Regions from separate parts of the Homo sapiens genome. Here all the other regions are linked to region 2. The links come from fine-mapping of genetic effects on plasma protein levels. A gene starts in region 2. Each other region holds a variant in brackets. All regions are shown on one strand. Distances are between the middles of the regions. Region 1 overlaps ITGA2 (integrin subunit alpha 2). Region 2 holds the start of MOCS2 (molybdenum cofactor synthesis 2). Region 3 overlaps ITGA2 (integrin subunit alpha 2).

Evidence for each region. A credible set is the group of variants that fine-mapping cannot tell apart. PIP is the chance, under the fine-mapping model, that this variant and not a neighbour inherited with it causes the effect. The UK Biobank Pharma Proteomics Project read protein levels with antibody pairs (Olink). The fine-mapping took linkage between variants from a reference panel, not from the people measured, so its PIPs are less certain.
Region 1: its variant is the best candidate, but not a certain one, in a credible set for the plasma level of the MOCS2 protein (UK Biobank, PIP 0.56).
Region 3: its variant is the best candidate, but not a certain one, in a credible set for the plasma level of the MOCS2 protein (UK Biobank, PIP 0.58).

The regions. Positions count from the first base shown.
Region 1 is chr5:53,017,190-53,028,629 of GRCh38, reverse strand. It overlaps ITGA2 (integrin subunit alpha 2), which reads right to left. Exons shown (of 30, transcript NM_002203.4): 2 at 1,762-1,882. It overlaps LOC124900974 (a long non-coding RNA gene), which reads left to right. Exons shown (of 2, transcript XR_007058767.1): 2 at 2,150-5,083. Among named protein-coding and RNA genes, the nearest start is that of ITGA2-AS1, 33 kb to the right of the region's middle. The variant G/A (reference allele first, on the strand shown) is at 5,384.
Region 2 is chr5:53,104,101-53,115,540 of GRCh38, reverse strand. It overlaps MOCS2 (molybdenum cofactor synthesis 2), which reads left to right and starts at 5,784. Exons shown (of 7, transcript NM_004531.5): 1 at 5,784-6,290; 2 at 6,898-7,019; 3 at 8,320-8,464. The coding sequence starts at 8,367. It overlaps MOCS2-DT (MOCS2 divergent transcript), which reads right to left and starts at 5,699. Exons shown (of 2, transcript NR_104654.1): 1 at 5,393-5,699; 2 at 415-1,682. RefSeq lists an enhancer at 899-1,398 and a silencer at 5,756-6,045.
Region 3 is chr5:53,051,742-53,059,796 of GRCh38, reverse strand. ITGA2 (integrin subunit alpha 2) reads right to left here. Exons shown (of 30, transcript NM_002203.4): 8 at 4,109-4,259; 9 at 3,648-3,813; 10 at 1,696-1,772. Among named protein-coding and RNA genes, the nearest start is that of MOCS2, 54 kb to the left of the region's middle. The variant C/T (reference allele first, on the strand shown) is at 7,345.

The DNA.
Region 1 (11,440 bases), 87 kb after region 2:
AGCAGTCTGAGGGAAAAAATTAGGGCTGAATATTTAAAACTGTGGGTCATTAGCTACTTCATCTGCTAGATTCCAAGGTCAAAATATACCGACCATATTGTCTTTCTAGCCTCCTCACCACTTTATGATTATCAAAGCATCATTTGATAATTGTTAGACATGCAACTCTCTCTCGTATCCCAAATGGTTACAATAATTGCCAATCTTTGGTTTCCAACCAGATGTTCTTATCCTTCTAGACAATTGACAAACTGTATCTACATGCATTGTTTTCTAAGTCTCCTCACATTAGTTAACACTCATCTCCAGCCTCTTCATCCTCACTACTTAAAACCCAGCTCACGATTTACATCCTCCAAGATGCCTGCTGAGAAATGCTGCCCTCTCAGGGGATGATTTCATTTTGTTTCCTCATCAAATAGACAGGCATGCCCCAACATGTGATCCTGAACCTTTCTTTGAATTCAATTGTTTAGAGTATCAAATGGAAGTTCACACAGAAAAAAAGGCTTATGAATTACAGTTACGGTTTTTTCCTCTTTTTTTTTTGAGACAGGATCTTACTCAGTCACTCAGGCTGGAGTGCAGCGGTGCCAACATAGGTCACTGCAGCCTCAAACTCCTGGGCTCAAGCCAACCTCCCAGCTCGGCTTCCTGAGTAGCTGGGACTGCAGGCATGCACCTCCATATCCAGCTGATTTTCAGGTTTTTAATAGAGATGAGGTCTCACTGTGTTGCCCAGGTGGTCTCTAACTCTTAGGCTCAAGTGATCCTCCCACCTCAGCCTCCCAAAGTGCTGGGATTACAAGCGTGAGCCACTGCACTTGGCCATACATTACGGTTCTTATTTGATAAGCCAACAACAGCCCATTTAATCACTGAAAAGAGCTCTAGAGAGTGGAGATTCAGAATCTGAAGTTCCAGGGTGAGTGGGGATGGTTGGAGCCTCCTGCTGCAACAAGGAGATAAGGTCCCCATGGCAGGACCTGTGTCCACCAGTGGGCATGAACTCTGGCAGAATAGGAGCTACAGCGCTTCTTCCCAAATACAACTTTCAAATTACCTCATTTCTCTGGGTTCACTTGCATTAGTATTATGGGAACTAGATTTCCATCTCCATTGAGGTGGTTGTTTTTCACCTGGGTAGAAAAGCCATGGTTTGAAAATGTAACCATCACATAGCATGTAAAAACTGGGAGCACTTTGGGGCAAAAACAAAAGGTGTTAATATGCTAGAGAAAGCCACCTTTGTACATTTTGCATTGATATTTGTGAGGACCCTTCACCACAAGGAGGGCAAAAGCCTAACTTAGAATGAAGCAAGTAGACAAAACCTTGCTAAAGAAAAAAATGTAGGAAACAATTCTACCATTTAGAAATGGTCCAGAGATAGCATTAATAACTAGGTAATGATTTACAAAGTTCAATGAATATCAGTTTACATGATCAGAAATGAAGACAAATCTATCATTCTATCAATCTACCTACCTATGTATTAATGGTCAAAACTGGTATTATAAATTTGCTTTTGAATATTTAGAGAAAACTTTCTATCCAGGTTTTTAAAAATGAACCATTATACCATCCCATTAATGATCAGTCTGCAGTTGTCAACTCTCAAAGAAAGATTGTTCATTTAAGGATATTTGAGGGCCACCCATTTATAGTACAGTCAGGCACCAATTTGAAAAAGCAATTGAAGTCAAATATGAAATTTATTTTGTATTTTTACTGAAATCATAAAGAAGAGAATATTCTTACCAGTTGCCTTTTGGATTTATAAACTGCTGCACTGCATAGCCAAACTGTTCACTTGAAGGACCGGAAAATATTTTTGCTTCTGGGAGACCAACATTGTAGGCCAAACAACAATTTAAAATGCCTATTAAGAAAAATATGAAATAGCACATATTTACAATTCATGAATATAAGTGTGTCGTATAATTCTCAAAGGCCATTTTTAAGAAAACTTGCTTGACCTAATAATTATTACTTATCAACGTTTACCCAGAAAAAATAACTACTGCTTTTTAAGTACTTATTTGGAGGCCCGGCACCAAGCTAAATACTATATATGCATAATTCATTATCTTACTAATCTTCATGGAAATGCTAGAAGATAGTTACTAATATTATCTTTGTTTTGCAGAGAATTTTGAGGTTCCAGGGGACAAGTATATCTCACAGCTGGAAAGAGGAAAGGATGAAGACAAAATTTGAACACAAGACTTAAAACAACTAAATTATCTCTAAGTATTCTTAAGTAATTTGAGTTATATTTGTCCTTCCCAAAACAACAAGACTCTAAGCCACCCAAGGGCAAGGGCTGAAGGGTATCATCTATTTATTCTGAATCACCTTGAACATCTTGACATGGACTCTATATGAAACATCTGTCGAAAAGGCATTGATGACTACATCAAAGGAGATAGAAAATCACAGCTCCTTGAAAATTGTTATCATTTTCTTTCAGAAGTGATCATTATCATTTTTGAGGATGAAAATGTAGGGATTGGTGTCATATCTTTTTTATTCCAGTGGGAACTGTCAAAAGTGTTTTGTTTTTGATGCTTCTTTCTGAATGATTGAGAAATGCTAATCATTTCAAAAAACAGAACAAAGACCAAGGCATATAAAGCCTTGATAGATTTTATTTTATTTTTTTTGAAAATTCTTATTTCTGATGGAAAGGGAATGAAGGAAAGGAATAAGGCAAATCATGTTTCTCTGTATGACACTGACAGCATTAATGCTGCCAGTTCTTCATCCTACAGAAAGAAGGTTGTGTGGATATTAATGCTCTCTCTGGAGATGGGAATATGCCTCATGTTGCTTAAGATCAATATTTACCTTCGCAGACACTGAAGACAGAATGGACTCTTTAAAATTGACATCAAAGTTCCATTAACATGTGCTTTCACAAAGAAATGTCCTACTTTCTAGGCAGCATTGCAAGTGCATGGTATTTCATATGTCTATTGTTTTAGGCACTGAAAGGCCGGAAGAAAAAGGCTTGCTCTTCCATTGCGCCTCTGCATTTCAGGGAGCAGATTCTGTAGAGTGCTCCAAAATGATAATGAAGTCAATGATGAAGCAACGGGGACTTTAAGTAGTTAACGTCCCTCTGTAAGTGCCAAAATCACTGTATCAGGGATTTGTCCACACAAGGAATTCAGCTTTTTATTTCTTACAAATAATGTGCTGCCATGAAGAGAAACACAAATACTCATTCTGAAATACTCTATAGCAAAATCTGCAAAGCTTAACATCTGCAAATTTTCTCCTTAACATCTATTTTTCATATGCTCCATTGCTCCTTTTTATTTTTGAATAATAAAAAAATGCAAAAGAAAATAACAGCAAATTAAGCAGAGATCCAGAATTGGCATGCAAAATACCTGGTGTTTTCAACCAACATTTATCTTCACCCCATTGTGGAGAGCTCAATAAATGCTATTTGAATATGTTATCAATCATCTAACATATTAGCGTGGAGAGATGATGCCAAACTGCTTTCACCTTTAAAATACCTAATTCTGGAAAGGACACGTGACTGTACATAAAACAACCTCATTTTCCCCCATTAATTAGACCTGGGCAGATCATTTAATGGCAGGAAATTATGATGGAGTTCATTTTATCATTTAGCAGTTCAATTATACAGCAATTCACATATATAGGCATATATGTGTTACTATATATGCATAGATATATATTATTAACTTATGTCTTGCCATTGAACTGAGAATAAAATCCAATGTCCTCACTGTAAATTCAAAGGTCCTTCATGATTGAGCCCTGGTGTATCTTTCTGACTTCACTTCCGACCACTCTCGTCCTCCCTCCCTGTGTTCCAGCCACACTCACTTTCCTTCTGTTTTTTGAACACATGCAGCTCATTCTGCTTATGCGCTTTGCAGCTGCCTGTTCCACTGCCTATAACATCCTCACCTAATACGGCATGTAGGACTTTGCTCAAATAGGTCTCTGCTCTCCCTTGGCCCTCTGTGTAGCAGCAGCACCCTTCTTCATCACTGTATCACTACTAGAGCAATTATCCAAAATTATCTTATATAGCCATATTCTTTTGTCTGTGCCTACTAAAATGTAAGCTCCTTGAGAAGTCAAACCTTGTTTCTTTTATTCACTCTTACTTTCTCAGCACCTAGGATTTTTTTTTAATAAAATGCATTTTAATTACTATATGTTCTTCAATAATGATTTGGAATATAGAGAAAACTCAAGGGAAAAATCATTCATAATCTTTTCTTTCTACTGTAAGTTCAGTTAATTCAGATGTATTTCCTTCCAGTATTTTTCCTCTATTTAAATTATAATGTTTATTCCAACTCGCATCTTACTGTTTCTTAATGCTTATGTCTGCCTATGTCAGAATCATCCTGACTCATTTGAGTGCCACAACAATCCTGTGGAACAGCAAAACCAAGCTATTATTAACAAATTACAAATAAGGAAACTGAAACTCATGAAGGCTAAATGTCTTTCTTGCGCAATGTCACCCACTCTGAGTCTAGGTTTGGCTCATCTCTCAACTTTATTGTCCAGAATTTCTATTCATAAATGATCTGCTCATTTTTCCTCACAAAGCATGACCTTCTTTATCACCATCCCTTCATTCCATTGATACTAAATCTCTTTTCAGCTACTTAAATCTTTCCCTTTATATCCTGCCTCTTTTGATAAATCTGGACAATCTCAATTCTCTATACTTTTTCTCTTAATATGTATTTACAATTCAGATCTCTGTCATCATTTCACACTTGGCATATGATATCTAAATAGCTCATAAAAAATTAATGGAAGTATTCTGTCTAATTCAACATGTATTTCTTCTTTGCAATCCCAGTGCCTATATCTTCTGATGTCTGTCCTCATAGTTCAACTGAATCATATGGATAATAAGAACCATATTTGGTTCATCTTGTTTCCTTCCTCCAAACCATGCCCATGTGTCTATACATACTTAAAAAATGGATCATTCAACATATGTTTATACAGCTCCTTTGTACCAGGCGTTTTTTAAGGTCCTGAGGATACTGCAAATAAATAAAACTAAAATCTCCCTGTTCTCTTTGCATTTCCATTATGGTAATTTTACTAAAAAAAATGGCATCAAAATGTATAAGTGTTAAAATAAAGAGTGGTAAAAAGAACCTTGAGCTCAGTATTGAGAAGAGGGTAAATCTAAGTTCAAAGGTTTCACAGAGGAGATGGCAATTAATCTGGATCTTGGAGGACAAGTTGGAATTCACTACATAAAGAGGAAGGCAAAGTTCATCCCAGGCACCGGGAACATCATGTTAAACGTAGGCATAGGGTGTGAAAGAGAAGAGTACGGCAATGGTGAAAAGTCTGGCACAGA[G/A]AGTCATAGGTTGCTTCATTAATCTATACATTTCCAGTTCTCTATTAGATGCAGTGAGTCTTCAACTGACTTGGGCTTTGCCAGGAGCCTATTATCACCCAGAGTATAAATCTTCCTTCTTTGTCCTCATGTGAATGCCTGGAAAGGCAATAATAGCATCGCAAACTCAACATATTTAACAAAGGTGACCTTGTCAGACACGTGTTGACAGTAACCAGGCCAAAGTATTCCAGTAAATCTCACGAAAGCTTACACCAAATACATTTTATCTCATGCAGGGCTAACTAGTTTCCTCTATTTTCACAATAAAAAGGGGATACTGTTTCATCCTAGATTATAACAGGCTGGTTGCCATTTTAATATCCATAAGTAAACCAGATAGTCAAGCATAAGTTAACTCATGTAGATTTCTTATTTTTCTTAGAGTCTGAGGCAGGAGGATAGCTTGAATCCAGGAGTGCAAGACCGTCCTTGGCAGCACAATGAGACCTCATCTCTACAAAAAATAGACAATTAGGTGGGCATGGTGGTGCATGCCTGTAGTTCCAGCTACTTGGGAGGCTGAGATGAGAGTATTGCTTGAGTTCAGGAGGTCCAGGCTGCAGTGAGCCATGATGGCACCACTGCACTGCAGACTGGGTGACAGAGACTCTGTCTCTAAATCAAACAAACAAAAATTTACAGGATCTCCTTTCCTGAGGATTCCTGACCATCTCTGAAATAATTTTTTTGGAAACAATAATTTAAGAATTAATTTTAGTAAATATGAAATTTATTCTCCTACTTTCTTCTGGAGCATAATTTTAAGTTATAATTCAAAAGAGAAACATATGATTGGGGATTTGATATAGTTAACCTACTTTTGTTCTAAAAATGTAGCAAAGCCTGAGCATGGCAGCTCACACGTGTAATCTCAATGGCCGTCTAAGACAGGAGGATCATTTGAGCCCAGGAGTTCAAGGCTGCAGTGAACTGTGATTGTGCCACTGTACTTCAGCCTGGGCAACAAAGTAAGACCCTGTCCCCCAAAAAAAAAAATGCAGTGAAACTCAGAAAGGAAAAAGTCTTTTAACAACAAGAGCGTAAATAATGTATAAAACAAAACATGTCATTTTATATTCAACCACAAAAATTTGGCAAGGGAAGTTTATTGATGTCTATGATATCAGTGTCAGAACTAAAGGATGCATTTTGTAGTAAAGGGTGGCAAAATAAAAGGGTCTAACTTTTGTGGTCAATGCAAATTTGAGCATATCTATATATACTGAAGGGCCAGGGGCAGGGATGGGTTTTTCATAGAAGGGACTCATTTGCAAAACGTGCCCAGGGACATACATAGGAAGAAATTCAGGTTAAGAGAAGAGAGCAAAGGCCAAAAGCAAGAGGTGGACTTGGGAATAGAGGTGTGGTTTTGACACAGCCTCTCAGATTGCAATTTGGCCCATTCCTGAAGATGCATACTGCACTTCTAGGGGGAACAATGTCTCCATTAAATATTGAACAAAAACATAAGAACTGTAAGGCCTATCTCTAACTGTGAGCACAGAGTGTCATTACTTTAAGAAGGTGGAGCACATTTCTCCCATGCCTGAGGGACTGGTCCTCAGTAGCTGCAGAAGGATTGACAGGGAAGAGGGCAGAGGATAGTGAGCAACTAGAGCATGCCGAGGGCAGGGGCCGTGGTGCAATAGTGATCAGGACACAGGGGACACAATTAGGGGCAGCAAAGGTTTCCAGGAGAACCATGCTCTAGAGTCTGGGAGAATGTTATCTACTCCGGAAGAATGAGAAAACAGTGTTTAGGCACTTAGGCTCTCTGTGTGTGTAAGTAGGTGGCTGGGCCACAGAAATTCTATTTTGCTAATAAAAATTTTGTATTTTATGTCATCTCTCAGTCTTAGGTGGCCTAAGAAAACACACTTTATACATATTAAATAGCTTTAATAATTTCTAGCAATCTAAAAAAATTAGTTCTTAATAACCACCATTAAAATTATCTGAATGTCCAAGATTAGGGGCGTGAATATGCAAATGGTAGCATATAAACTAGACAGAGTTTTATCCTGCCATTAAAAAAACAGCAATTGTGAAGAAGATGACAGTGCTTAACGAAAATAAAATAACAAAAATAATATTCAGAATAGAAGAAAAAGGTAAAATATATGTGAATAGTAACACAACAAACAGTACAATTGTGAGTGTAATGTAGCTGCTTTTAAATTTTCCTTTAGTGTATAAGAATCAAGATAAAAAGGCCGGCACGGTGGCTCATGCCTATAATCCCACCACTTTGGGAGGCCAAGGTGGGTGGATCACCTGAGGTCAGAAGTTTGAGACCAGCCTGGCCAACATAGTGAAACCCCGTCTCTACTAAAAATACAAAAAAAAAAAAAAAAAATTAGCCGGACATGGTGGCACATACCTGTAGTCCCAGCTACTCGGGAGGCTGAGGCAGGTTAATCACTTGAGCCCGGAAGGCGGAGGTTGCAGTGAGCCAAGATCGAGCCACTGCACTCCAGCCTGGGTGACAGAGTGAAACTCCACCTCACCAAAAAAAAAATAATAATAATAATAAAATAAAATAAAAATAAGAATCAGGATAAAATAATGAAGAAAGAAAATTGCTTCTCCTACCCTGGACTAGAAGGACTATAAGCATGAGCTATTTTATTTCAACATCATTTGCAGTGTGTAATCTTATTGTCACATGCACAAATATATAATTTACAATATATAAAGGAAACTCTGGCCCATTGGGTTGCATTTGACTCTTACTTTCATTTGCTAGGCATGTCCTAAGAATGGGATCCCTACATTTATGCCTATAGACTTAAAAGTGCAATGGTTATAAATGTCTTTCATCTCAGTAACTCAAATGGTCACATAATAACACTTCAATTCCATGGAACTCTATGTTTGTAATAAGTCTTGTATAAACTTGTTCATATCTGTATGATAACTTGTGATATTTTCTCCATGATTCTATGTTTTTTCTCTCTCTATTCAAAACTGTCCATAATACAAAACTAATGAATTTATACACACAGTTAATAAACAGATTTTATTTTCCTATTTATTTTTTGTTCACTCAATAAACTTATTGAGTATTTATGATGTGGTAAACATTGTTCTTAGTGCAGGAATGAGAATTACATTAATTCTCTCTTATCCTCAGGGAATGTGTTCTAAGATCCTCCCATCCCTCCAGTAGATGCCTAAAACAATAGGTAATACCAAACCCTATATGGTATATACTGTTTTTTCTATATATACATACCTATAATAACATCTAACTTATAAAATTAGACACAACAAGAGATTAAAAACAACAACTAATAATAAAACAGAACAATTATAATAATATGCCAGCATTACTACTCTTGCACTTTGGGGCCATTATGAAGTAAAATAAGGATGACTTGGCCAGGCATGGTGGCTCACGCCTGTAATCCCAGTACTTTGGGAGGCCGAGGTGGACAGATCACCTGAGGTAAGGAGTTCAAGACCAGCCTGGCCAAGATGGGGAAACCACATCTCTACTAAAAATACAAAAAATAGCTGGGCATGGTGGCACATGCCTGTACTCCCAGCTACATGGCAGGGTGAGGCAGGAGAATTGCTTGAACCCAGGAGGTGGAAGTTGGAGTGAGCCGAGATCATGCCACTGCACTGCAGCCTGGACCACAGAGCAAGATTCCATCTCTAAATAAATAAATAAGGGTGACTCAGACACAAGCCCTGCAATACCATGACTGTTGATCTGATAACCAAGATGGCTCCTACATGACTAATGGGCAGGGGCCTCAGACAGCCTGCTGGACAAAGGGACGATTCACATCCTGGGCAGGATGGAGTGAGATTTTGTCACACTACTCGGAACGATACACAATTTTAAACTTATGACTTATTTACTTTTGAAATTTTCCATTTAATATTTTTAGGTCACAGGTGACCGTGGGTAACTAATTTATATATTTTGCTCAAGATAAAAAATTAATGAGTTTGCTTATTTATATGAATTACTTCTTTTATCCTTTGTGGTTCAATAAATCATTGAATCATTTTTAAATAATTCAACTTATTTTAAAATTATTTTTTTAAAGTACCCTTTATTTTCATTTAAAAAACAAAATGTTTTATTTATTTATTTGACGTTTATTTATTTATTTATTTATTTATTTTGAGACTGGAGTCTCGCTCTGTTACCCAGGCTGGAGAGCAATGGCACGATCTCCGCTCACTGCAACCTCCGCCTCCCGGGTTCAAGCAATTCTCATATCTCAGCCTCCTGAGTAGCTGGGATTACAGGCGTGTACCACCACGCCCTGCTAATTTTTGTATTTTTAGTAGAGATAGGGTTTCATCATATTGGTCAAGCTGGTCTCGAATTCCTGACCTCAGGAGACCCACGTGCCTCGGCCTCCCAAAGTGCTGGAATTTACAGGCGTGAGCCACCGTGCCCAGCCTAAAAAACAAAATGTTTTAAAGAGTATTTCACTAATTTTAGACATGACCTCTTCAAGAATAAATGTAATTTCTACAAATATTTTATATGCTTTCTATAATCCTCTTTGTGTTACTCAAAAACTATACCAAGACGGGAGCCAAGATGGCTGACTAGAGGCAGCCCGAAGAAACCTCTCCGACCGAGAAACCAGGACATTGGGAAGGCTGGCACACACTCTGAACAGGTCTTTGCAGGGAAGGCATTGAGAGTGGATGAGGGAGGACACGGATGCTGGGCTGAAGGGGGAGAAAGCTAGGAGCCCTACACGAGGCTGCCCAGCACCAGGAATCCTTCCTGGTCCCCAGCAACTTCTGGGGTCAGTTGAACAGGTGAGGAGTGGCCTGCTCCTGCCATGGACCTCCAGCATCCTAGCAGCGGAACTCACGACCCCCACGGACACCTGAGCTGACACAAAGACAGCTGCTTAGAGAGGTGGCAAAGGCAGACTCCAGCCAGTGGGGAGCCCAGAGGATTTAACAACAGCAGAATATGGCCAAGAACGCCCATCCCTCAAGGCCTGCCGTGCTCCTATAGGAGACTTTAGCCTTAGGGTGACTGTTGGACCCGGACAGAGCAGGGCAGTCTTGCCCGTGGGATGGGGCCAGTCCTATCTGAGCATCTCCTGTCTGCTGGCCTTTCCTGGAGCTCCAGCCTGACCATGGCCTCTTGCAGAGCAGCTTCAGATGCCCAACCAGAGTGCTTCCTAGGGCACCTCATCAGAGCTCCTGCACTGACAGACCATGCCTGGCCATCAGAGGGCTCCAGCAGAACAGCCCCTACCGATGCATAATGGTTTACCTGCAGCCTCCCCCAGCCACAGCCTCCCCAACCGCAGCCTCTCCCCAGCATTTTGCCAGCATGCGCTTACCCATGCCTCACACCCCTCCACATCCCCCCAACACTGCTTTGCTGGCCCACACATGCCAGAAGACCTTGTCTCTCCTCCCCTGCCAGTGCATGCTCATCCTACCATACCCCCAGCTGATGTGTGGGCAGCCTGCTATGCTGGCATGAATGCACACAGGAATACTGGCAACCTCATCCCCACTGGTGCCCTGCCCCTGCTGTACTGCTACCATGCACCGCCAGCAGGTTGCTGCCACCCTGCTCCTTCTGGAGCCCCACCCCAGCTGACACATGGGCACACGGCCATGCTGCCACAGCTGCTGTCACATAAAAGTGACGATGGATCCTGCTGCCACCACCCCAACAAAGAGCTTTGGCTGGCATTCCCCCATCGGAGTGTTGTGGACAATATAGAGCATGAACACTTTGGCCCCTCCAGTGCAGCAGATGCCTAACCTTGAAAGACCAGAGAACAAAGCGGGGGGGCCCAATGCCAGTTCCTCAGAGTTAGAGTATGAAGCCTAGGAGTGCAGGGCTGAGCCTTTGCTCCCTATAATCTTACAGAGACAATGCCAGTTCACTAAACACCACAATCACATCCTCCAAGTGCATCAAAGAAGATAAAAGCAAAAAACAACCCATCCAAAAAGTAGCAATTTCAAAGACTGAAGGAATATCAGCCCACACGGATGACAAAGAAACAG
Region 2 (11,440 bases):
CACTTGTGCCCGGGAGGCAGCCGTGTCAGTGAGCTGAGATCACACCACTGCACTCCAGCCTGGGTGACAGAGTGAGACTCCATCTCAAAAAAAAAAAAAAAAAAGAGCTTTGGTTTTCATTGTTCAACATCTGTGTGGTATATTTTTCTGTTTCTAAAATCCATTTGTTGTGCATATCTTAGATTTTTGCAGAAATGAAATTACAAGATCTGGCTTTCCTCTGGCATCTGAAACTGGGGGATTTGATATATACATTTTAGAAAATCATCAGTGAAGAACATATTTGCAAAAAGCTCCTATAGCCATGTTCTTTCATTTTAAGGTGAATGATTTGCAGTTGGAATAACTAACCACAAGGAGGTGTGCTTCTTTTGACCTAAATTTCCTTGAATAAACTAACAAGTACAATATATATGGTTTATTCTGGCTTTTGTTTTTATTTAAAATGACCAATGAATAAAATTACACAACATGGATGTAGCATTTTAAAATTACCTCCTTCAATTATAAAATTGACTTAATATTTTGTACACCTACAAGGTGCAAGGCACACTGCTGGGCTGTTTGTTAACGGCATACTATACTCTATGTCTTCACAAGTCATTTGCATAGAAAGGTGCTTGAAATTCTGTGTGATTTGTTAAAATCAGTAATTCCAGATGGGTTTACTTCAAACTAGTGATACAGTGATAGAGGCAGGAGGCAGAGAAATTTTAGGCAGAAAAGGGAGGGTCCCTGACAAAACCCCACCCTCAAGCCAAAAAGCCTGAAACCGCAGCCCAAAGTAGAGAACTTCTCTCCCTTTTGTCTGCTCAAATGTTGCTTTTTCCTAAATTACCCATGGCCCACCCTGCCCGCCATCCTGTGCTATAAAGACCACAGACTCAGCCAGCAGAGAGGAGAAGCAACTGGACGTGAGGGACTACGGCTGGATGTCAGAGAGAAGTGGCTTGATTTCAGAGGGACATTTTGATGGTGTAACTTTGGAGAAAAATCCAGCCAGAGATGGCAGGACTTCAGGGGAAGGTTACCTACCCAGCCCATCCCCTTTTCTGCTCTCCTTCCTGCTGAGAGCCACTTTCACTGGGAATAAAATACCCCGCATTTACCATCTGTGAATTCTTTTGTGTAACCTCATTTTCCCTGAATGCAGGACAAGAGCTCAGGAGTCATGAGTGCAGATACAGAAGGCTGTGACACTGGCCCTTTACTCTTGCCTAGGGCAGCTGCCTCACGCAAAAAGGCAAAGGGCCCACTGAGCTGTTTACACTTAAGCCACCTACGGATGGTAGAGCTAAAAGAGCACTGTAGCATGTCCTCTGGGGCTTTGGGAGTCACAGGCCGCCCCTCAGTCACTGCTGCAGGGCCCTGCACAGAGTTTGCTCCTGCTGGAGCCCAAAAGTGCTCACCCTGACTCCTGCATCCTCTCACCTGCATGCTCCCTCCCACGAGGGGTGGAACACAGTGTGTCCAAGTGATGGAGTTTGATCCCAGTAGCGCCGAAGTGGCCGGGTTGTTCCAGTGCTGGTGCTCTCCAGTCCTCACCCTCGTTCACTTGTGCGCTCCCTCCTGTGAGGAGTTGTGGGCAGCAGGCTGAGTAAACACCTCTGACGTGGGTCCCATGAAGGGGTCAGGGAAATATCCTGCTTCGGTCGTCCTTCAAAAAGTAACTACTGCATTATCTATTTTTTAATAAGAAATTTAAATATTAAAATATGTTAATGACATTAGTCCAATGTCTACGGATCTCACACCACATAGTCCAAACTTCCTCAGACAGAAATATTTTCACTGTTCAAAAATTCTGCCACACTGGGAAATAAAGGAGTAGACATGGGCTGACATTTGAAAATCTATTACCTGTATTTTTTTTGGTAATAGAATATGATTATAAATCTCAACTTTATTACTGACTTAAACAAGGTCACTAAAGCATTTCACGAAGAGTTCCTGATAATGGGTAACCAGATATCTAGGACTAGATACTATTTAGCAGCTGAAAATGATGGCAGAAAATATATGGGCAGCAATAGAAAAAGAATGTGACTAAACATTTTTAGCAATTTGATATAAAATATTTAGATTTTAAAAAATCTGTATAAATGGATGAATAGGTTGGATTTTACGGAAAAAAATAGGCTCAGTTCAATTAGAGACTGAACTGTAACATGATAAATCAGAATCAATGATGACAAGTTTTATATACTATTTTAATAGCACAGAAAACAAAACCAAAAAAACCTATTACCTATTGGCGAAACGACTGATGGAACATCTAATAACTTTTAAATCAAGTTAAGCCTAAAGCTGCCTCCTTACAAATTTTAAGTTTGGCCTAAAGGTTTCTCAACACACAGTGAATTGTAACCTAACTGCATGTGTAAACAGGCTGTAACCTACTCTTATACCAATCACTGTGTTGCAGCCCATCAAAGGCAGCCAACTGTTCGAACCTTGTTCAAGTAAGGTAAACACCAAGCTGTAACCAATCCAGCTGTTTCTGTACCTCATTTTCTTTTCCTGTAATTTATTTGCTTTTTTTGTCCATAATTCTTTGATCATGTGGCAGCACTGGAGTCTCTTTGAACCTGTTCTGGTTGGGAGAGGGGCACATTTCACAAATTGTTCTTTGCTCATTTTAATTTGTCCAAAGTTTTTCTTTTGACACAATGAACTCTGATTCTGCCAGGTGTTTCTGGGAAAATTGTTTTTCAGAAAAGGCAATGAACATTTTTGATAATTTGCTACTACACGTGTGTCTGGAATTGGTTCCTTCCGGTGGGTTCTTAGTCTGACTTCAAGAATGAAGCCTCAGACCTTCGTGGTGAGTGTTACAGCTCTTCAAGGTGGCATGGACCCAAAAAGTAAGCAACCCTAAGATTTATTGTGAAAAGTGAAATAACAAAGCTTCCACAGCATGGAAGGTGATCCGAGTGGGTTGCCACTGCTGGCTAGGGGCGCCAGCTGTTATTCCCTTATTTGTCCCTGCCCACGTCCTGCTGATTGGTCCATTTTACAGGGTACTGATTGGTCCATTTTACAGAGTGCTGATTGGTGCATTTACAATCCTTTAGCTAGACACAGAGCGCTGACTGGTGTGTTTTTACAGAGTGCTGATTGGTGCACTTATAATCCTTTAGCTAGACAGAAAAGTTCTCCAAGTCCCCACTCGACCCAGGAAGTCCAGCTGGCTTCACCTCTCACAAGCAACGTTATGTTTCTCATCTTCTAACAGAGCGTTCTGTGAAGGTCTGAGATGCTCCTACATTTCTAGTCTCATGGAATCTCGTCTTTTTTCAATCTGAAAACAAAATGGAAATGTTTTTGCCTCAACTTGTTTTTTTTCTTAACCAAATAGGATTCCTTATGGTAAAAATAACTGGGAAAATGGTGGCTCCAACTATGTTTTCACAAAAAATTGTAGCTTAAGTGAAATGCAAATGTTCATAAAGTCATTTTGCTATTACTAAAATAATTTATATACCATTGTGATGATTCACTGATTTAATTAATGAATTCATAAGAAAAGTAAAATCAAAGCCTATGGAATAAGCCTGGAATATTTTGGTATCAGTTTTGCTTGCATATCCACAAATTATAGATGGGGCTGTATTTTGTAAAAAAAAAAAGAACTGTGTCATATCTACAGCATAATGAATAAACGATGTGAACAGAAACTTCACAGAGAAGTATAAGTGCTCAATGAAAATATGAAAAGATTCACCTCATTAGGAATTAGAAAATAAAAAAATGAAAGCAAGGCAATATTATTGACCTATATTTACTTGAATTTATCAACAAAATAACTGGTGAAACTGATAGGATTATAAATCATCAGATTATTGTTTATTTGTAAAAGATAGTTGCTCCTAAAATATTTTCTAAAATAAAGAAGATTATGAAAAATATTAAGAAACCTGAATTGATATTTTGTAACTATATGTTCCCACTTTGGACAGTTTCCATTTTTTTTTAATATTCTGATGTCATTTACATTTTATTTTATAATCATATCCCATAATTGATATCTTAGTTTTACGTTTGAATGGGTTAAAATCTCAATGCCAGTTTTTTTAGTTTTTCATTTTTCCCATATTAATACCTTTATTGCTGAGTTATTTACTTTGATTACTCTTGATTGAGTGGACTTTTTGCCCAAGAAAGATTTTTAAGAAGGGTTCTTGGGTATTGTGTTTTTTGAGTTTTTGCTGATTTAGGAGAATCCTGCCCCACCAGTTTGGCTGTAATATTATGGGATCATGCTTTTGTTCTCAGCCTTTTTTACACACTGCACATTGCCATCAGATGCCACTGAGGAGTCTAAGGCCACTATTGTCATTCCCTTGTTTTTATGCCTGGGTGTGAATATAGTCTTTATCCTTTATGTTTAGCAACTTTACCAGGATACACATTGGTATTCATTGCTCCTTGTCAATTTTTCCTACCAAGGACTCTCCAGCCTCACTTCTCATCACCTCCTTTGCTGGAGGCACACCTGCCTTGCCAACTACTTGCCCTTCTGTGAACTTATTATGCTTCTTCATATCCCTGTGGCTTGTCAGAGGCAAGTGAAATTTCTTCGTGCTCTACTCCCACTCTTGTCATTTACTGCCACCATTCTAGCAGATTTACCTTCTCAGCATCTTCTCACTCCCCAGGTGACACAACCACTTTCCCCTTCCACCCTTGAAATGTAACACAGATCCTTAGTATTACAGGGAATTATCATTCATATTTAAAACTCTCCTACCCAGGACTGTGAGCTCCAAGGAAAGGGACGTGTAACTTACATCCACTTAACGACGCAAGCAATTTAAAGCCAAGAGTTCTTGTTGGCAAGAATTGGGAAAGTTGGACGGACAGTATACAATTACCGAGCAGCCAATAAACAGGAAAAGTCATACAGTTCGAATGTTCTGACCAGGCGGATATTCTGTCTTTAAGAAACACTAATCATATACCTGGGAAAGAAAAAAATCTTGGGCCCCTTCAAACTGGGAATTACTCAGGGCAAATCTGCCTCCTATTCTATCCAAGTCACCTCTTTTGCTGACAAAGAATAGATGCATATTCTGATTGCCTCCTTTAGAAAGACTTATCAGAAACTCAAAAGAATGCTACTGTCTATTACCTACCTGGAAGCCCCCAGTTGGGGGGGGCGGGGCTTGCTTTTAACGGTCTCCGCCTTTCTGGAAGGAACTAATGTACTTTTTACATATTGATTGATGTCTCCTGTCTCCCCAAAATGTATAAAACCAAGCTGTGCCCTGACCACCTTGGGCACATGTCCTCAGGACTTCCTGAGGCTGTGTCACGGGCATGTCCTCAACGTTGGCAAAATAAACTTTCTAAGTTAACTGAGACCTGTCTCAAATTTTCGAGGTTCACATACCGTAGGTAAAAGTGTCAGAAGCCTAAAGGTGAGCCAGTGGAAAAGCCTGAAGACCCCTGCAAGGTTATTAGCTAAGCCTCCATAACGCAGGCGGCAAGTGTCCAGGAGTCTGGCGTCTGCTCGCCTGCACCACGACCTCCCTCCTGGGGAGAAGGACATGCATGGTAAGCCATTTCTCCATTTCCATACTGATTGCTTCCTCTCACCACCACGGCCCATCTGCGAAGCAAAACTAATCCTGGCGTGGAACAGGCCGCCTGAGGGAAACAGCTAGAGCCCGGCGCGGGGCGGAGCTGGTTGTGCGCATGCTCCGTGCAGGCGCAGGCGGGGGCTGAGCGCCGTCGGGTTACGCCTGCGCTCCGGGTGAGCCCGCGCCTGCGCCTTTGCGGCCGTGATTCGGTCCCGCTGTCCTAGGCGGGATGGTGCCGCTGTGCCAGGTAAGGGTGGCGGGTGTGCGTGCGGGCCTGGGTGCGGAGCCCTCCTCGACGTGTCTCTCCCGCCCTTTCCCTCCACATACCCAGCCTTGGTCAGTCGGACCTCCCCACTAGCCCCCAACCTGGCCGGCGTCTTGGGTTCGGGGGCGCCCCCGCCCCCGCCCCCGGGCCCTTCCTGTCTCCGGGCTTTACTGCGACTGCCCCAGCAGAAGTCGGGTCCTCTCCGAGAACTCTTGTCAGCTCACGGCAGCAAGGACGGACTCGTTCTGAAGGCGCCTCCACCTTTTATGACCACCTCTTTCCCAGATTATTCGTTTTGATGAAGCTAAAATTTTAATCTAAAAAGAAATGCACCTCATGGAGAATTCTTGTGAAGAACTGTGCTTCATCTGTGGATTTCTACACCCTTGATCATTTGCAAACCTGTAATTATTTCGTAAAGAGTTGTTTGCACGGAGTGACAGGTGCCTATTTTACTTCGTCGGATCCCTTACATACCAGGCTGCTGGCACAAGTTTGTTCTAGCAAATTCCAGTCTGTCGTGTGTTTCAAACCTACTTGCTTCTGTAAATGTCAGATTTACTATGTTGCATAACTTAATCCTTAGCGTCTGGGGACGATGTTATACAGACCGGAATCTAAGGTCATTTGACAACCGTGAGAAACAGGTTTTTCGCTTATTTATTCATTTATTTTATTTGTGTAACTCATCTCTTGACTCAAACATTTGTTCTTTGCTTACATATTTATAAAAGGTGCTATACTTTTATGTCAATTAAGGCAGGCTTAACATGTTTTCCTAGAAGATAAATACTTAGGATTTTAATGATGGCACACTTAAGTTTGTAAAACTAAAAGGCATCCAGAAATTAGTCTGAATTGTATTTAAAACAACAAGTTTTCAGAATTTGAACTTGTAGGTATACTGAAATTTTTTACGGGTTATTTAATTTTCTTTATAAAATTTGTCTTTGATTAAAGCAATACATTTGGAAAATGAGAAAACTGCTCAACATTGACAGTCAGAAAACGAGTATGAGTTGTTATTAAAAGCATTTTCTTTACTTTCAGGTTGAAGTATTGTATTTTGCAAAAAGTGCTGAAATAACAGGAGTTCGTTCAGAGACCATTTCTGTGCCTCAAGAAATAAAAGCGTTGCAGCTGTGGAAGGAGATAGAAACTCGACATCCTGGGTAGTTAAAAATTTGTAGAATGCATATGAGTAACACTTAGATATTTTCAAAATACATAAATGATAAAAGTAAAAAGGTTAATTTCGATTTCCGTGCTTAATGTCAAAAAGAATCGTTAGTTGTATTTTTTTTGGAACACCTGAAAAACTCTAAATGTGCACCGTATTTTAAGAAAGGTTAAAGATATTTTACCCCAAAACACAGTGAACCGCAGAGGGACATGATTATATTCTCTTTGATAATTTACAAAACACTGCACATGTCACTTCTGCAATTTTATAACATTAAATGAAATTGTTACAAATTCTGTTAAAAATGTGTGCTTTAAACATTTTGTTCTGCCCCTCTCTTTAGAGAGCTCAACATAGAAATTTCTAAGATTGAAAGAAAAATGAGTTACAACAAATCCTAGATGCTGCTGAATTTGAGTTTTTGTAATATTTAATTTTTTTTCTGGTTCTTGAAAAACCTATAATTTTACTTATGTCATTCCCACTTCAAGTTCTTTTTGGAACAAAATATAAAAGTGACTTATTTGAGGGTGATTCAGGAATATTAATGGTGTTACTTAGCTTGTATAGGTGTTTAACCTGGAAGTCCTAGTTCTGTGTAAAAGATACTCCATAATAAGTGTTTAAAAGCAAACCACTTCATGATTTCGTATCTTTTAAGTTGCTCTTACAGTGGCCTGATAATCAATAAAACACAGTGGGGTCTCCCATTCTGCTTTACCTGGAGGGAGACAGCAGGTCTTGTATACGTTTTCACTGTGCCTGAAAAGAAAGCTTACCATTGTTCAGGTATAAAGGAACAGCTAATAAAGCTGTGTTGCAGGTGGCTTTATGACCTATGCTATCTTTTTCATCTTTCTAAGCAACTTAATCCATATTCGAGTAGGATAATGTGTACAGGCATAGTTTGTGGGCAGTTATACTTGTGCTTGAACACATGGATAGAAGGACCCTGGAAAGGCCATGTACTGATTGGAAACTTTTCTTTTGACCTGGTTTGAGTGTTGCCTCCAGTCTGGTGGGTTTTTTGTGCATTTTTTTGTTGTTTAATTCCCCAAGGCATACAACATCCAATAAAGAGTTGACAGCAGTTTAACGTATCTTTGTGGTGTATAAGTATGTTCTTCAGTGGATATGTCCTTTCTCCATATACTATGTGTAAATTTAATTGGTAATTTTGCAGGTGATGCTTTATATAATTATATCTATGTAATATCTCTAATTGCAGCTGAAGCGATTTGAGGTCTATCATAGCGTTGATACTTTGAGTCATATTTTTTCCCCTTTAGATTGGCTGATGTTAGAAATCAGATAATATTTGCTGTTCGTCAAGAATATGTCGAGCTTGGAGATCAGCTCCTCGTGCTTCAGCCTGGAGACGAAATTGCCGTTATCCCCCCCATTAGTGGAGGATAGTGCTTTTGAGCCATCTAGGTATGTGAGATTTGTTTTTCTTAATCAGTCGTGTGGGGAAGGATCATACAGATGATAAAGTGTATGTGGTTTGCTGTTAATGTATATTCTTTGTAAGTCTGTCTGTACCAAATCTTTATTGATGCAGCAACTCTTCATTGGTGCCAACAGATTTATGAATATCTAGCACCATTTCTGCATCAAGTCTATTGTAAGCAGTTTAATTACAATAAACATATCAGTTTGATATGTTTCATTTAACATGGTTTATTGAGATCTTATGTGTCAGGCACAGTGACATATTAATATCCATATTTTGCAGGTAAAAAAACAAATTCAGAAGACTTAAAAAACTTGCCTTTGATCACATAGCTAATCACATAGCTAATAAGTGAAAGAGCCAAATTAAAAAGAATTTATTTAACTTTTAAGTTCAGGGGAACTTGTATCATGGCGGTTTCTTGTACAGATAATTTTGTCACCCAGGTATTAAGTCTAGTGCCCATCAGTTATTTTTTCAATCTTCTCCCTCCTCCCACCCTCCACCCTCAAGTAGGCTCCAGTGTCTATGGTTTCCTTCTTTGTGTCCATGTGTACTCAATATTTATCTCCCACTTGTAAGTGAGAACGTTTGGTATTTGGTTTTCTGTTCCCGCATTAGTTGGCTAAGGATAATGGCCTCTAGCTCCATCCATGTCCCTGCAAAGGACTTGATCTCGTTCTTTCTTATGGCTGCATAGTATTCCATGGTGTATATGTACCACATTTTCTTTATCCAGTCTACCACTGATGGGCATTTAGGTTGATTCCATGTCTTTGCTATTGTGAATAGTGCTGCAGTGAACAGACGTGTGCATGTGTCTTTATGACAGAACGATTATATTTCTCTGGGTATATATTCAGTAATGGGATTGCTGGGTTGAGTGGTATTTCAGTCTCTAGGCCACCCTGTCTTCCACAATGATTGAACTAATTTACACTCCCTGCAGCAGTGTATAAGCATTCCTTTTTCTTCACGTCCTCGCCAGCATCTGTTATTTTAATAATAGCTCTTCTGACTGGTGTGAGATGGTATCTCATTGTGGTTGGGATTTGCATTTCTCTAATAATCAGTGATGTTGAGCTTTCTTTTCATATGATTGTTGGCCACATGTATGTCTTCTTTTGAAAAGTTCCTGTTCATGTCCTTTGCCTACTTTTATTGGGGTTGTTTTTTCTCATAAATTTTAAAAAATTCCTTAGAGATGCTGATGTTAGACATTTGTCAGATGCATAGTTTGCAAAATTTTTCTCCCATTCGGTAGGTTGTCTATTCACTCTGTTGATAGTTTCCTTTGCTATGCAAAAACTCTTTAGTTTAATTAGATCCCATTTGTCAATTTTTGCTTTTGCTGCAATTGCTTTTTGAGTCTTCTTTGTCATTAAATCTTTGCTTGTTCTTATGTCCAGAATGGTGTTGCCTAGATTGTCTTCCAGGGTTTTTCTAGTTTTTGGTTTTACATTTAAGTCTTTAATCCATTTTGAGTTAATATTTGTATATGGTATAAGGAAAGGGCCCAGTTTCAGTCTTCTGCACATGGCTAGCCAGTTATCCCAGCACCATGTATTGAATAGGGTATCCTTTCCCCATTGCTTGTTTTTGTAGGTTTGTTGAAGATCAGATAGTTGTAGGTGTGAAGCTTTATTTCTGGGTTCTGGGTTCTGTTTCATTTGTCTATGTGTCCTGTTTTGTACCAGTCCCATGCTGTTTTGGTTACTGTAGCCCTGTGGTATAGTTTGAAGTTGGGTAGTGTAATGCCTCCAGCTTTGTTCTTTTTGCTGAGGATTCAAGAGGTTTTCAAAAGACAGCATTTGAACTCATATTATTGGACTGTCTGTGTACTTTTTTCCAACCACACTTACTAATACTAGATAATAGCTCTCCCGGCCATGGAAAATGTAGAAAAATTTCACAGCTAATAATGCCTGAAAAGAGAGCTAATCATTGCCCAGGACTAAAGGAATAGCTTTATTGTTATGGCTGTGTTGCAGGTGGCTCTTTGACCCATGCTACCTTGTCATCTTTCTAAACAACTTAGTCCATATTCAAGTAGGATAATGTACAAGAACATTGTTCAGTATAGTGTGGAGAGATCAGGCTTCTTATAAGTACAGACAGAATGAGGCTTAATTTATTGTCAGCTGAGGAACAAACAGTAGAAATTAACAGTCATCCCTGAATAAAAACTCTTGGTAAGTTAGGAATGAAAGAAGACTTTCTTAATTTGATAGGATTTTTATTCAAAATCAGGAGTAAATATCATATTTAATGGCAAAAACTTGGTTCCATTAAAGAAAGGAGCAAGCCAAGGATGCCTTTTTATCTTTTTTCACCCATTTTTTCCCCACCCTCCTGGAGGGCAGTGCCACAAGAAATGAAGAATCAATCTGTAAAACAGATTGCCTCTCATGTCAACACTAGGCTTCTTTCTCAGGCCTACTATCTGGAAATAATAGAAGAATCTCTTGTCAGATATGTATCTCAATGCTATTTAGAAACTGTGGTCACCATATCACCACCATGATTTCAGGAGGTTCTAAAAATGCAGTTTTTTGGAATTTCGAATTTATTCAGAAAACTATAGGCTACCATTAAAGGGATATTTGTGGTAATTACAGCTGTTCTTTGAAAAGGTTACGAAGATTACTCAAAAGCATTGTGTGTTACTTGAATGTGTTTCGCAGGACTGGTATTATGCATTTTTAAAACCTGCCAGCTAGGTTTTAGTAGTCTCGTAAAATCAGAAGTTGTGGGAACTCAGTATGGTTTGAAACTCGTAGACCATATTTATATTACCTATATTTTATTGCAAGAAAAAGAGGTGGAAGACACTTAGGCGGCTTGTGTAGCAGATGAAAAATCCTGGAATCCAGTGGTATATAAAGAATTGTGCTGTTTCCGTGGTGGAAAGGAGATAGGAAAAAGAACATTGGCTTAACTAGTACTCCTTGGTTGGA
Region 3 (8,055 bases), 54 kb after region 2:
AAATAAGTTGTTTAGATTTATTAAAAATGATGAAATATATATGAACATATATTGACATATTGTAGAATTGTCTTAATATATTTGTGCTAGAGAACAAGCCTTCCCATTGGCTGTGTTATTTTGGACTTTATTTAGTATGATATGTTATACAGACAAACCTTTGTAATAACCTGTAGTACAGGACAGGTACAGAGCCATCTTCAAATTTCCCTTTCAAAGGCATATATTTGCCAATGGTAAACCCTTATGAACTTTACAAAGGAGTCAGAAGTGAGTCTCTCACTCCACATATTTATAAGGAAAGCTCACAGCCGGATATGAGACATGCTTGAGAAACAGAAGTACTGACACGGGAGAGACGGAGATACTTCTGCTATCCCAGACACGGCTCGGGAGGCCCTCTTCTGACCTGTTCTACTTTCAGCTTTCTTCCTCTCTCTTCCTGACCCCTTCTCAAATGTTCCAGTATATTCCTATATTCCATCTATTTGATAATAGCACAGCTACAAGAGGCAACTTTAGCTGTGACATTCAATCTATTGGAAGGAAAATAACCATTTGTCAGCCCTGTGGGGAGGGCAAAGGAAGATGCCTACTCTGGATTGACTTGAAACCCAATCTAAACACTCAATGCTATAAATCATCAAACGAGGCAGATTTGGTGAGGATGAGATACACTATTTTTAATTTTTTGTTCTTCTATCTTAGAGCGTACCAAAGATAAGATGTTGGACTAAAAAATACAAGCCATGAAAAATAGCAAGTAAGGAAAAGATGTGTTCTACTTTGAGGATAAGAGACCATGAAGTTATGTGAATGACTGTAGTAAATTGAGGGACTCTGGATTTGGGGTGCATGAAAGGACTTCAGCGTATGTACAAAAACCTCATGGGATTGTGTGCAAAATTCTCCGTGCATAGATTCATTTACATTTTTTCTGAGGGAAAGATCCATAACTTCTATGAGCATCTCTAAGGATTGATGATCCAGAAAAAGTCAGTTCCTTTGATTCTAGATAGAAAACAAGCTGTTCTTGGTCCTCTGACCTGCCGATCAAATCCTGGGATTTCCTACTGTTCCTTAAATAATTCCCAGGATCTCTTTCTTTTTTTTTTCGCCTCCTTTCACTATCTCTCTCACCTCCTGACTCAAATTAGAATCAGGGGCCCAGGAGGTGGATGTTTCTGAGAGATAGAAATAGACTTCCCCGAGCTGAAAAGACAGTGTTGTATTCCAATTCCACCTCACGTTTTTCCTACCTCCTTATTTTTTCAACTCTTTTCTGTCTGCTCTTAGAAAAAGATACTATGACCATTCAGAATTCGACCATGACGGTGATGACAAGAGTACGTGTTTTTAACAAACATTTCCAGTAGTTAATTGATTCAAAGAAAATTCCTGCAGGAATAATACCTTAAGTTAATATACAGTCTGTGCCCTGGGGTACTCAAAGACTTTCTGGTATACTATCAGTTTTCCCCCATATAAGATCCCTGTGAAACAGGGAAGGGAAGACATTATTATCCTTCAAATTTTAGAGGTAAATCAGCAGCACAAAGAAACTAAATGACCGTGACTAGGAATCAGAAGGGCTGATCCCTAGATGGCTGTCTTCCCATTTTATGTATAAGGCTACTGTGTCTGGAAGTGTTATGCCAAATGACAACATGGCTTGAAGCTATCTGATATACGCACATTTTGAGAAGAGTAATCTGCACTGAATCCCACTTGTGACATTTCCATCTGAAAGTTGTCTCCTCCTTGAACAGTACCTGGAACATTCAATTTTAAAAATTGTATTACTGTCAGTAATTTTAAATCAAGTTTTCAAACACAAGCAGGCACGTATGTACACACATGCCTACAAACACAAACACAAACACACACTGTTCCAATACTCACCCAAAAATACAGAGCTTGCATATTCTGGGAAGAAGAAATTACTAAGAAAGTGTTCTAGCAGGTTATGGAAATAACAACACTTCCAAGGTAGTGTTCAAAGTTGGCATTAACTTTAATTGAACATTAATGTATTTAGCAGAATATGTATGACGTTCTTGATACCAAAGGACACTCAACAAAGGGTATAAGGTAAGGTGAAAACTGAGATGATAATTTTTTAAAAACTTGATCATTACTAGCTAAGAAACTAACTGAATTTTTAGCTTTGAAATATGGGTACTGATAATGTACACATATCTCAGATGCAGTTGGAAGGGCTGGGCAATTGATCTGTAGTGAAGACTGCTGGGAGATAACTGAGTTAGCTATTAGGAATCAGAATTCAAGACTGAGTAGGAATTTTACCAATTGGGAAGTTTGTTCTGGTTCTGTATATGTGCTTGCCTGTGTCACTAACACTGTAAGATGCAATTGGTACTTATTTTCCATACAGTGTGATCAAAATGGCTACGTTTCACTAATCTTCACAAAAGGAAGCTAAATTACTGGACTCACACTTTAATATAGAAAAGAAGACAAACTGTACTGTACAACATAGTCTTATTTAGAAGATAAAATAATTTACACAGGATGAGTAGAGATACTTTTTAATAAAATAGAATAATGTTCCCCAAAGTCCATAATAGCAAATAATGCTCAAAATCATTTCTAGCTAGCTTGTAGATTGCAATTGTTCTCATTCATTCCACTACAAACAAATACAATTATCAGTGTGGATAGCCTAGTGATTTTGTGTTATCTCAGGGTATGCTGGATTTAAATGGTTATTTAAACAACTTTGAAGCACCATGGGATACTGAAGAAGCAATAATGCTTTTTGGGTAATTCCAATGGATAATCAAATCAAGATTTGAGTATATGAATGAATAATTTATGCAATTCCTTTAGCCCCAGACTCTAAGGCTGTACCTGATACATAGGTTTCCAATAACATATGGTCTTTATTGCAAAGAGTTATTCGGGTTAACCATCAAGAACTAGGATTTGGGTGATGTGTGTTTTTTTTTTCTTTTAACCAACTGTGAAGTGTGTGCTAGTCCCCCACACAGTGAGCTCCTGAACACGTGATCTTTCTGCACTAACTAGATTTTCCAAGGCCACCTAAGTAAATTATTTTAGGTCCTATAAATAAAATGCTTCCTCAAAAACTGAACTATTAAAAATCTTTGCTGTATTTTTCTAATTTTAAAAATATATATGCTTACTGTAAACAAATTCAAGAATTTTAGAACTTACATAACACAGTGTAAAAAGGTAAAACTATTTATGATTCTAATAGATAGATATTCATACATTGTCCCCCAAAAGTCATAACAATTTATCATCCTATCAACAGTGTATGAGCTTCTTTGCTTCCTGATAATCTCTCCAGGATTAAACATTATTATTCTGTGTCATCTTTTAGGCAAAACATATTGTCGGTTTAATTTATGTTTTTAAATACTTACTGAAAGTATTTAGAAATATACTTTGTAAATTGGGAATATTTTCTTATGTTTATCAGTCATTTGTATTTTATCATTTATAAACTATTTATTCATGTTTTTCATCCATTTCTCTTACTGATTGTAGTAGCTCTTTTTATACATGGTATACAAGTTAACATTAGTAAAGCAAATATGTGATAATAAACAATTATTTAAACATTTTGAAGAAAATTCTTGAAAGGAGGTTATTTTTTTTACCTTCAATGCTGAAAATTTGTTCTCCTAATGTCCCAGCCTTTTCTAGTAGAGCTGCTTCATCAGACACATTGAAAAAGTATCTTTCTGTTGGAATACTAGCGATTGCTTTTATTTCTTTTATTAAATTTTTAGTATCAAGGGCGTTTCTGTTTAAGTACCCAAGAACCTTGAAAATAGAGGAAGAGAATGTGCAGTCATTACTGCTGTACATTTTCCCTATGAGTACATTCTAGCCTATTTTGAACACAATATTCCCTCTGGAAAAGTAAATCAAGCAACATTTCCATAACCCTTTATTTAGTAGACAGGATTGAAAATCATCAAGAAGCAGAGATAGAGTAAGAACTTTCTTTTATATTCAACTATGAACAGCCAATGGGAAAGTGCAGCCTTGAGAAGTGATGCTATAAAGAAAGATTTACCCAATAGCGGCAAGACAAGTGAAAAGAAAAGCCACTTACTGCTATGCCAAACCTCAGTATATTGTCATGGTTGCATTGATCAATCACAGCTTTCAACATTGAACCATCATGTGATTCACCGTCAGTTACAACTACCATTACTTTCGTAGCACTTCGTCGCCCACCAGAAGCTGCTGAATAAGCATATTTTCTGTGGCAGATAAAATTAAATAAAGACTTGCTATCAAAATATGAAGTTAATATGAGAACCTCTGGTTTAAAATAGAAACATGAAACTAGCTTCTTTAAACACAATCTATTGTAACTCCATATTAATTCTGAGGACATATTTAATGTTCCATTTGTAGCTTGTAGAGAAACATATACAAATGGAAGTCTTGCTTGACATTAAAAACAATGTCTTGTGTGTCAGGGCATATGTGTGTATATGTGTGCATGTATTTATCCCAGTATTCCTTAGAATTCTTTTCTTCTAAGAAAGTTGAATTAATCAGTATGAATTAATAAAGCAAAGATATTTCTGTTATAAATTTTATGCATTAGTCTTGTGTTTACTTTATCAATACTTATTTTTTTAAAAGTAATAGATATCCACAGTTAAAAAAAAATCAAAGTATTTGGAAAGGTATAAACCAAATGTGACACTAAACCCCTCTCCACAGGTAAGCACCATTATCAGTTTCTTGCATTTCCTTCTAGAAAATGTTTTATTTAGATGTAATATAGGTACAGGCATAGTCTACCCCTTAAACTTTTACTCAAATGAGGGCATATTCTTTTTTAAAAAATGTTTTATTTCCATAGGTTTTTGGGGAACAGGTGGTATTTGGTCATATAAATAAGTTCTTTAGTGGTGGTTTGTGAGATTTGCACCCATCACCTGAGCAGAATACACTGAATCCAATTTGTAGTCTTTTATCCCTCACCCGCTTCCCACCATTTCCCCCCTGAGTCCCCAGAGTCCACTGTATCATTCTTATGCCTTTGCATCAAATGAGGGCATATTCTAAACAGTTGTTTTTTACTTTGATGGAGACCTTTCCATATCAGCACATGTATATACATGAAGGTCTCATTCTTTTTTTAAATGTCTGCATAATATTTTATTTGGAGGACCATATGAAGGAAGACTGGTTTATTTAACCGGTTCCCCATTATTGGATGCTTAGGACATTTTGAGTTTTACAAGTAAGGCTGTAATAAATATCCCTGTGTATATATCTTGGCATACTTTTTCAAATGGGATAAAATCTTAGCAGTAAAATTATTGGGACACAGGATACACACAATTCAAATTTTAATAGATAGTATCAAATAAAGAAAAAAATCAGAGCATTCTATGTCTTGAATACTTTAAGAAGGCAGTCGGGAAAGTTAAATCTTTGATTTTAGGATGTTTATAAGATATTACATGATGTTTAAATGAATTTATATGAAGTAAATGAAATGAGAAGACCTTAGATTAAAACAGTAGGAAATGGGGCAATCTGTCATAATTTGTTAATATTCATCAGAGATTCAGACAAATTGAGCTCATGGATAACTTGGTGCAAATTAACAAAGGCCACAGAATCTTAAACATATGAGTTTCAGTTTATTATAAAACTGAGCATATCATTTTATTTCCTAAAATCTTTTTTGTATTCTATAATGTAGACTATAGAAACATAGAAAATATTCTGCATTTTTCGGCCAAATTTGAATTACACTATCCACATCAGATCCTTTCTGAGTGTCACATTCTCTTTATGATACACTGTAAATTTCATGTATGATTCTAAGGTTTTTGAGGACAGAAACTGTGTCTCATTTAGTTTTAATTACCCGCAGTGCTTAAAACAATAAACTGCAACTGTAGGCATTGAATGAAATGAGGTGAATGAAAACATGGCAACAATTACTGAAATAATTTCAGATTATCTTCAATGTTTTAAAGAAAGAGATGAGAGACAGACAGAGAGAGAGAGACAGGCAATTACATTCTAGGAGGGATGAGTAAAATGTTGGGTGATTCTCCTAGCACTGGGCAGACTAAAACCTGTTAGCTTGGGAAATAGTGGGAAGAGGGAGATAGACAATGGCCCAAGGGAGAAAACCAAAGTTTTGAAACATGATGAAAGCCAGGCAAGTCCTTCCTCAATGGACAGTGGCCATTGTCCTGGAGAACAAAGCTCGCCAGGGCCCCAGGCTCCTTCCAGGGAAAAATGCTACTCCCACCTTCCCTGCTGAAAACCGGGCCGTTGCAGTTTCTAACTCCAGGAAAGCCATTTTTCATCTCAACTTCTTTGTCCTTTTAGTCCAGTTTGCTGTGTCCAGAAAGGGCGCTTCACCTAATGGCAGCTGACCTATTGACTGGCCAGCAGCTTATGAGATGGCCTGGCCCAAAAAACCTTTATTGTCCCTGAATAGAGACAGTAATGATGAACCAAACCAATCATATCTTCTCTTGTGGGGAATCTGCTTTTGAGACATTTGGGATTGTCACCAGTTGACGGAAGTAGCAACTGAAATACACACACAGAAAAAGAAGACAGATAAAATGGGAAATGCAGAAATAGAAATGACAGGATGTGGCCACTGACCAGATGTGTGACATAAGGAAGAGTGGAAAGAATAAAGGAAACCAAATTTTTAGTTCGACTGACTAGGCAAGAGACAGTGGCATGAATCAAAATGGCAAGTTCATGAGGAGTGGTAGGGAAAAGAATAAGGCCAGTGTGGGACAGATTGAATTTGGTAAGTGAGCCAACACTCCAAATAAAAATATTCATCATCAGCTAGATGCCAGTGTGAGTTTTGGGAGAGAGTGTAGGGCTGACAACATAGCAATGAGATAACCCAACAGTGCTGCTGCTGATGCCATGACAGTGGATAGAATCCCTACAGGAGAAGAGCAGTAAAGAAGAGAGGGCTCTGTTTAGTGAAGAAAAAATAGGAAAAGGAGCTAGTGAAGAGGCAAAAGAATTTGGCAGGAGTTCGAGAAGTTTGTGGTGTCATGGCAACTTGGTTAGGAATAGCAGCGTATGTTCATCATTATCAAATGTTCAGAGGAGCCAGAAAGGATGAGGTTTAAGGTGGGACCACAGGGTTGGGGGATGAAGAGGGTCATGCTTATCTAGTGGCAGAACTGTAAGTTTCAAGGAAGTAGAGGGAGGGAATAGAGTTGCTTTTTTCAAAAAGAATTATGGTGGTAAAAAGAAGGAATGCACAAGACAAAGAGAGAGAATAGGTTTAAGGGAAGGCAAGCTTGTTGTTCTCATTAATTTGTTTAACAA[C/T]CGGAGTGTGTTTAGCATTTTTGTGAAGGTATCTGGTTTGCAGGGACATGGATGGAGCTGGAAACCATCATTCTCAGCAAACTTACATAGGAACAGAAAACCAAACACTGCATGTTCTCACTCATAAGTGGGAGCTGAACAATGAGAGCACATTGAACAATGAGGACACAGGGAGGGGAACATCACACACTGGGGCCTGTCAAGGGGTGGGGGACTAGGAGAGGGATAGCATTAGGAGAAGTACCTAATGTAGATATGGGTTGATGGGTGCAGCAAATCACCATGGCATGTGTATACTATGTAATGAACCTGCACGTTCTGCACATGTATCCCAGAACTTAAAGTATAATAAAAATAAAATAAAAAATAGAGTGAAAAGAAAGGTCAGTGGATCTGAGAAAATAGAGAAATTGAGATAAGAATCAAGAGAGTCCTGTATAGTTATAATTTCACATTTCCCACTGATTGTAATAAGCATAATAAACTTAAACTCGTATGTTTAAGATTCTGTGGTCTTTGTTAATTTGCACCAAGTGATCCATGAGCTCAATTTGTCTGAATCTCTGATGAATATTAACAAATTATGACAGATTGCCCCATTTCCTACTGTTTTAATCTAAGGTCTTCTCATTTCATTTACTTCACATAAATTCATTTAAATATCATGTGATATCTTATAAATATCCTAAAATCAAAGATTTAACTTTCCCA